Linked DNA regions of Homo sapiens: region 2 is linked to region 1. Evidence: fine-mapped expression QTL. A gene starts in region 1. The other region holds a variant in brackets. All regions are shown on one strand. Distances are from middle to middle. Region 1 holds the start of ASB16 (ankyrin repeat and SOCS box containing 16). Region 2 overlaps HDAC5 (histone deacetylase 5).

Evidence for each region. PIP is the estimated chance that this variant, and not a neighbour inherited with it, causes the effect.
Region 2: its variant is the best candidate, but not a certain one, in a credible set for the expression of ASB16 in cerebellum (GTEx, PIP 0.52).

The regions. Positions count from the first base shown.
Region 1 is chr17:44,169,297-44,172,199 of GRCh38, forward strand. ASB16 (ankyrin repeat and SOCS box containing 16) reads left to right here and starts at 1,408. Exons shown (of 5, transcript NM_080863.5): 1 at 1,408-1,794; 2 at 2,750-2,903. The coding sequence starts at 1,494.
Region 2 is chr17:44,088,236-44,091,138 of GRCh38, forward strand. HDAC5 (histone deacetylase 5) reads right to left here. Exons shown (of 27, transcript NM_005474.5): 12 at 152-363. Among named protein-coding and RNA genes, the nearest start is that of G6PC3, 19 kb to the left of the region's middle. The variant A/G (reference allele first, on the strand shown) is at 1,796.

The sequences.
Region 1 (2,903 bases):
AGGAGAATCACTTGAACCCCAGGAAACGGAGGTTTCAGTGAGCCGAGATCACCCCACTGCACTCCAGACTGGGTGACACCATGAGAAAAAAAAAAAAAGGATGATTGAAGGCAGTTTCTACAGACTAGTCTGTCCTGCTTGGAGAATGGGGGAGGCTGCCAGGTGGCTGCAGCAGCTGAAGGCAAAAAGTGTACCATCTTTTTTTTTTTTTCTTCTTTTTTTAAGAGATGGAGAGGCAGGGGGTGGTGGCTCACGCCTATAATCCTAGCACTTTGGGAGGCCGAGGCGGGCAGACCACGAGGTCAGGAGTTCGAGACCAGCCTGGCCAACATGGTGAAACCCTAAATTAAATCTCTACTAAAAATACAAAATTTAGCTGGGCATGGTGGCGGGTGCCTATAATCCCAGCTACTCAGGAGGCTGAGGCAAGAGAATCGTTTGAGCCCGGGAGGCGGAGGTTGCAGTGAGCCAAGATCGTGCCATTGCACTCCAGCATGGGAGACAGGGTGAGACTCTGTCTCAAAAAAAAAAAAAAAAAAAAAAAAGATATAGGTCTCACTGTGTTGCCCAGGATTGTCTCAAACTCCTAGGCTCAAGCAATCCTCCTGTCTTGGCCTCCCAAAGTGCTAGGATTACAGGCATGAGCCACCATTCTTGGCCCAAAGCACACCATCTATGTGGGGTCCTGGCTCTGCCTCTCACAAACTGTGACCTTGAGCCAGTAGATTACTTTGTTAAGCCTTAAATTCCTCATCTGTAAAACAGAGATAAGACCACCCATCTCAGGGGCATTCAACTGTGATAATTTCATTTATTGTCCAAACCAAGTTTACTAATTATTGGGTGGGCTGGGAAGTATGATCCCCTGGGTGAAGGTGGATATGAATGTGATTTAAACACCGTGAAACTCTGTGCATATGTACAGAGTTATTGCTGTTACTGCAGATGCTGGGAAGAGCTGCTCACCTTCTCAGTAACTCTGCCTTGACCTCCCCTTACCTCCTGTGCTGAGGTCAGCCCTCTCTCCTCCACGTGGGCCAATGGTGGCTCCTGCCCTCCAGCCAACATCAGAGAGGCTGGAGGCACCTTGTCTTCCTCCCAGCCCTGCCCATCTCCATGACTGACCTTTTTGCGCACCCTGGACCTTGCCAACCCAAGATGCTCGCTCTAGAGATGAAGGTGGATGCAGATGCTGGGGTTCGGGGGTGGCCTCAGCTGAGGGCCTGCTGACCAACCAAAGGGTATCGGCAGGGGCAGGGGCTGGCCCTCACCCTGGGCTGGGGGTTGGGCCAGCAGCTTCTCAGCACCAGGATCATGACTCTGAGCAAACCATGTTTACCAGAGCAGCAAAGGACCTATTTATAGCCTCAGCTGCTGCTTTCTCTGGCTCACGGTGGCGGGGGCAGGGTGGCTCCTCAGAGCAAGGGAGGTAGTCGGGTCGAGGGAACCTGGCTCTGCCCAGGTGCCACTGCCCAAACCCCTGGGCCCCATCCATGGCAAGAGAGACCTTCCCCTTCACCTCCTCCATGCTGCGCTCTCTCCGCCTGCAGCAGGAGTGGCTGGAATGGGAGGACCGGCGGCGGGCGGCTGCCCAGCAGTGCCGGAGCCGCAGGTGCCCGTCAAGTCCCCGGGCCCGACTCACTAGGCCTCACCGTTCCTGCCGAGACCCAGCTGTCCACCAAGCCCTCTTCTCCGGCAACCTGCAGCAGGTCCAAGCCCTGTTCCAAGATGAAGAGGCCGCCAACATGATTGTGGAGACTGTGAGCAACCAGCTGGCCTGGTCGGCTGAACAGGGTAGGGGGCACCAGAAGAGGGCAGAAGAGGAGGGAGAAAGAAGGGGAGTGGGTGGGGAAGGGGGAGAGTCTAGGCCCCTCCTTCCCTGCAGACCACAGACTATAGCAGCCCTTTCCACCACCTATCCTAGCTCCCTCCTAAACAGAGATGAGGCAGGGTTAGCAGTCTGTATGTCTTTTAAGAATTAAAAGTTGACCGGGCACAGTGGCTCACGCCTGTAATCCCAGCACTTTGGGAGGCCAAGGCAGGCGGATCACGAAGTCAGAAGTTTGAGACCAGCCTGACCAACATGGTAAAACCCCATCTCTACTAAAAATAGAAAAATTAGCCGGGCATGGTGGTGCGCACCTGTAATCCCAGCTACTCAGCAGCTGAGGCAGAAGAATCACTTAAACCCGGGAGGCGGAGCTTGCAGTGAGCCAAGATAGCGCCACTGCATTCCAGCCTGGGGGACAGAGCGAGACCCTGCCTAAAAAAAAAAAAAAAAGAGACAAGGTCTCACTATGTTGCCCAGGCTCATCTCGAACTCCTGAGGTCAAGTGATCATCCCGCCTTGGCCTCCCAAAGTGCTAGGATTACAGGTGTGAGCCACCACCCCAGGCCCCAAGGTGAACAAGCCTTTGACACTATTAGCCATTCAAAGACGCTGAGATTTCCTTAATGGGAGTCACTCTACTTAGTTGGCCCCTGTGGTTTTATACAGCAATTAATTTTTTTATGACACATACTATGTTTTGTTACAGATTGATAAGCTGTATTAAAAGGCTGTTCCAATTTATTCTTCCACTTCAGGACTTGAATAAGCCCCCTTCCACAGGTACAGCCTGGCAGTGTTTGTGCTCAGCAAACCATGCAGAGGGAAGGCCAGTGTCAGCTGTCAGCTGGAACCAGCATCCCCACTCCCTGCCCTGCCCTGTCTTATACACCACCTCCCAAAACTATTTGCTCTCCCTAGGGTTCTGGGTGCTGACCCCCAAGACCAAGCAGACGGCACCCCTCGCCATCGCTACAGCCCGAGGCTACACAGACTGTGCTCGACACCTGATCCGGCAGGGAGCTGAGCTGGATGCCCGTGTCGGGGGTCGCGCTGCCTTGCATGAGGCCTGTGC
Region 2 (2,903 bases), 81 kb before region 1:
CTCCTGACCTCAGGCGATCTGCCCACCTCGGCCTCCCAATCAGGCGCGAGCCACCGTGTCTGGCCTGAAAGGAGGACTTTTCTGCCAGCCTGGTACTCTCCTGTGTCCTGCCCCCACCACAGCCCCAGGCCATTCACCTTTCCAGGCTCACCTTGCCCAGCTGTAGCTGCTGCTGCTTCTGCTTCTCCAGGAACTGCTGGTGCTGTTGTTGCATGACCAGCTGCTGCAGGGCCTGGGGACTCTGCGGCAGCGGTGAGGACTGAGTGCGGCTCAGGGGCCGATGCCGCGGGAGCTTGCCTACCGTCCGCATGCTGGTGGCCACACGTTCACCCGTCACTAGTGGGGACTGCCCGTGGAGTGGCACTACGGAGTTGGGGGTGATGACTAAGCACCATTGTCAGGGCACCTGACTGCCCTCCCACCGACCCTGCATCTTGCCCCCACAACCCCCTCTGGCATATCACCACCTATATACTCAGGAAAAACCCTGGGGGACCTGAAGCACCCCCCACCCAAACCTGAGCTCCATTCTTCCTCTTCCCCATGAATGAAGAGTTTCACAGCTCTAAGGTACCACCTCCAGCAAGCCTTCCTGGATTCACCATCTTTTCCCTTCGATTTCCTTAACTGAATAAACTGAGTATACATTTAGTCTTGAGCCCTCTGAACGAACAATGACTTTTCTCCCTAAGTGCAACAAGGCCTCCCTGATCATGGATCCTCCCCGTGGATCCCGCCAGGCTAGGAAGCCCTAGGGCCAGGATCATGTATCTTTCAAGCAGAACCTCTTCTGGTGCCAGGGCTCTTTAGACAGCCCTGGTACTTAAGGGCTGTCTAAAGTTGTGCTGTCTAGTCCCATAGCTACTAGTTACATGTGACTGCTGAGCCCTTGCACACAACCTGTCTAAACTGAAATGTGATATAAGTGTGAAGTATACACTAGATTTCAAAGAGTATGAAACAAAAACCAAAATATCTCATTGGTAACTGCATATTGGCCAGGCACAGTGGCTCACACCTGTAATCCCAGCACTTTGGGAGTCCAAGGCAGGGGGATGGCTTGAGCCCAGGAGTTCAAGACCAACCTGGGCAGCTGGGTGCGGTGGCTCACACCCGTAATCCCAGCGCTTTGGGAGGCCAAGGCAGGTGGATCACTTGAGGTCAGGAGTTCAAGACCAACTTGGCCAACATGGTGAAACCCCGTCTCTACTAAAAATACAAAAATTAGGCCAGGCGCAGTGGCTCACGCCTGTAATTCCAACACTTTGGGAGGCCAAGGCGGGTGGACCATCTGAGGTCAGGAGTTCAAGACCAGCCTGGCCAACGTGGTGAAACTTCTTCTCTAATAAAAATACAAAAAATTAAGCCAGGCATGGTGGCACATGCCTGTAATCCCAGCTACTTGGGAGGCTTAGGCAGGAGAATCACTTGAACTCGAGAGGCAGAGGTTGCAGTGAGCCGAGATCTTGCCACTGCACTCCAGCCTGGGCAACAAGAGTGAAACTTCGTCTCAAAAAAAAAAAAAAAAAAAAAAAAAAATTAGCTGGGTGTGGTGGCACACGCCTGTAGTCTTAACTACTCAGGAGGCTGAAGCAAAAGAACCGCTTGAAGCTTGAACCCAGGAGGTGGAGGGTGCAGTGAGCAGAGATCCTGCTTACTGCACTCCAGCCTGGGCAACAAAGTGAGATTCTGTCTCAAAAAAAAAAAAAAAAAAAGGATGAGCATGGCGGCTCACACCTGTAATCCCAGCACTTTGGGAGGCCGAGGCGAACGGATCACCTGAGGTCAGGAGTTC[A/G]AGACCAGCCTGGCCAAGATGGTGAAACCCCAGCTCTATTAAAAATACAAAAATTAGCCAGGCGCGGTGGCAGGCGCCTATAATCCCAACTACTTGGGAGGCTGAGGCAGGAGAATTGCTTGAACCCGGGAGGCAGAGGTTGCAGTGAGCCAAGATCACGCCACTGCACTCTAGCTTGGGCAACAGAGCGAGACTCAGTCTCGAAAAAAAGACCAGCCTGGGTAACATAGCAAGATCCTGTCTCTACAAAAATTAAAAAATAGAAAGAATAACTGCATATGTATTACCGAAATTGTAATATTCTGGATATAATGAGTTAAATATATGTGGTGAAATTAATTCCACTTGCTTCTCTTTTTTTTGAGACAGAGTGTCGCTCTGTTGCCCAGGCTTGGGTGCAATGGAGCGATCTCGGCTCACTGCAACCTCCGCCTCCTGGGTTCAAGCAATTTTCCTGCCTCAGCCTCCCGAGTAGCTGGGATTACAGGTGCCCGCCACCACGCCCAGCTAATTTTTGTATTTTTAGTAGAGATGGGATTTCACCATGTTGGCCAGGCTGGTCTCAAGCTCCTGACCTCAAGTGATCCACCTGCCTTGGCCTCCAAAGTGCCGGGCTCACAGGCTTGAGCCACCATGTGTGGCTCCACTTGCTTCTTTTAATTTTTTTATTTTTTTGAGACGGAGTCTCACGCTCTGTGCCCCAGGCTGGAGTGCAGTGGCACGATCTCGGCTCACTGCAAGCTCCGCCTCCCAGGTTCACACTGTTCTCCTGCCTCAGCCTCCTGAGTAGCTGGGACTACAGGTGCCCACCACCACGCCCGGCTAATTTTTTGTATTTTTAGTAGAGACGGGGTTTCACCATGTTAGCCAGAATGGTCTCAATCTCCTGACCTCGTGATCCACCCGCCTCAGCCTCCCAAAGTGCTGGGATTTCAGGCGTGATCCACCGCGCCCGGCCTTCTTTTTACATTTTTTAATGTGGATGCTAGAAATTACGTATGTAGATTGTGTTATGTTTCTACTGAACAACACTGCTCTGGGATGTGAACGCCAAGATGGCAGCAGATTTTGTCAAGAACAGTGCCTGGCATCCTGTAGGTATCCCATG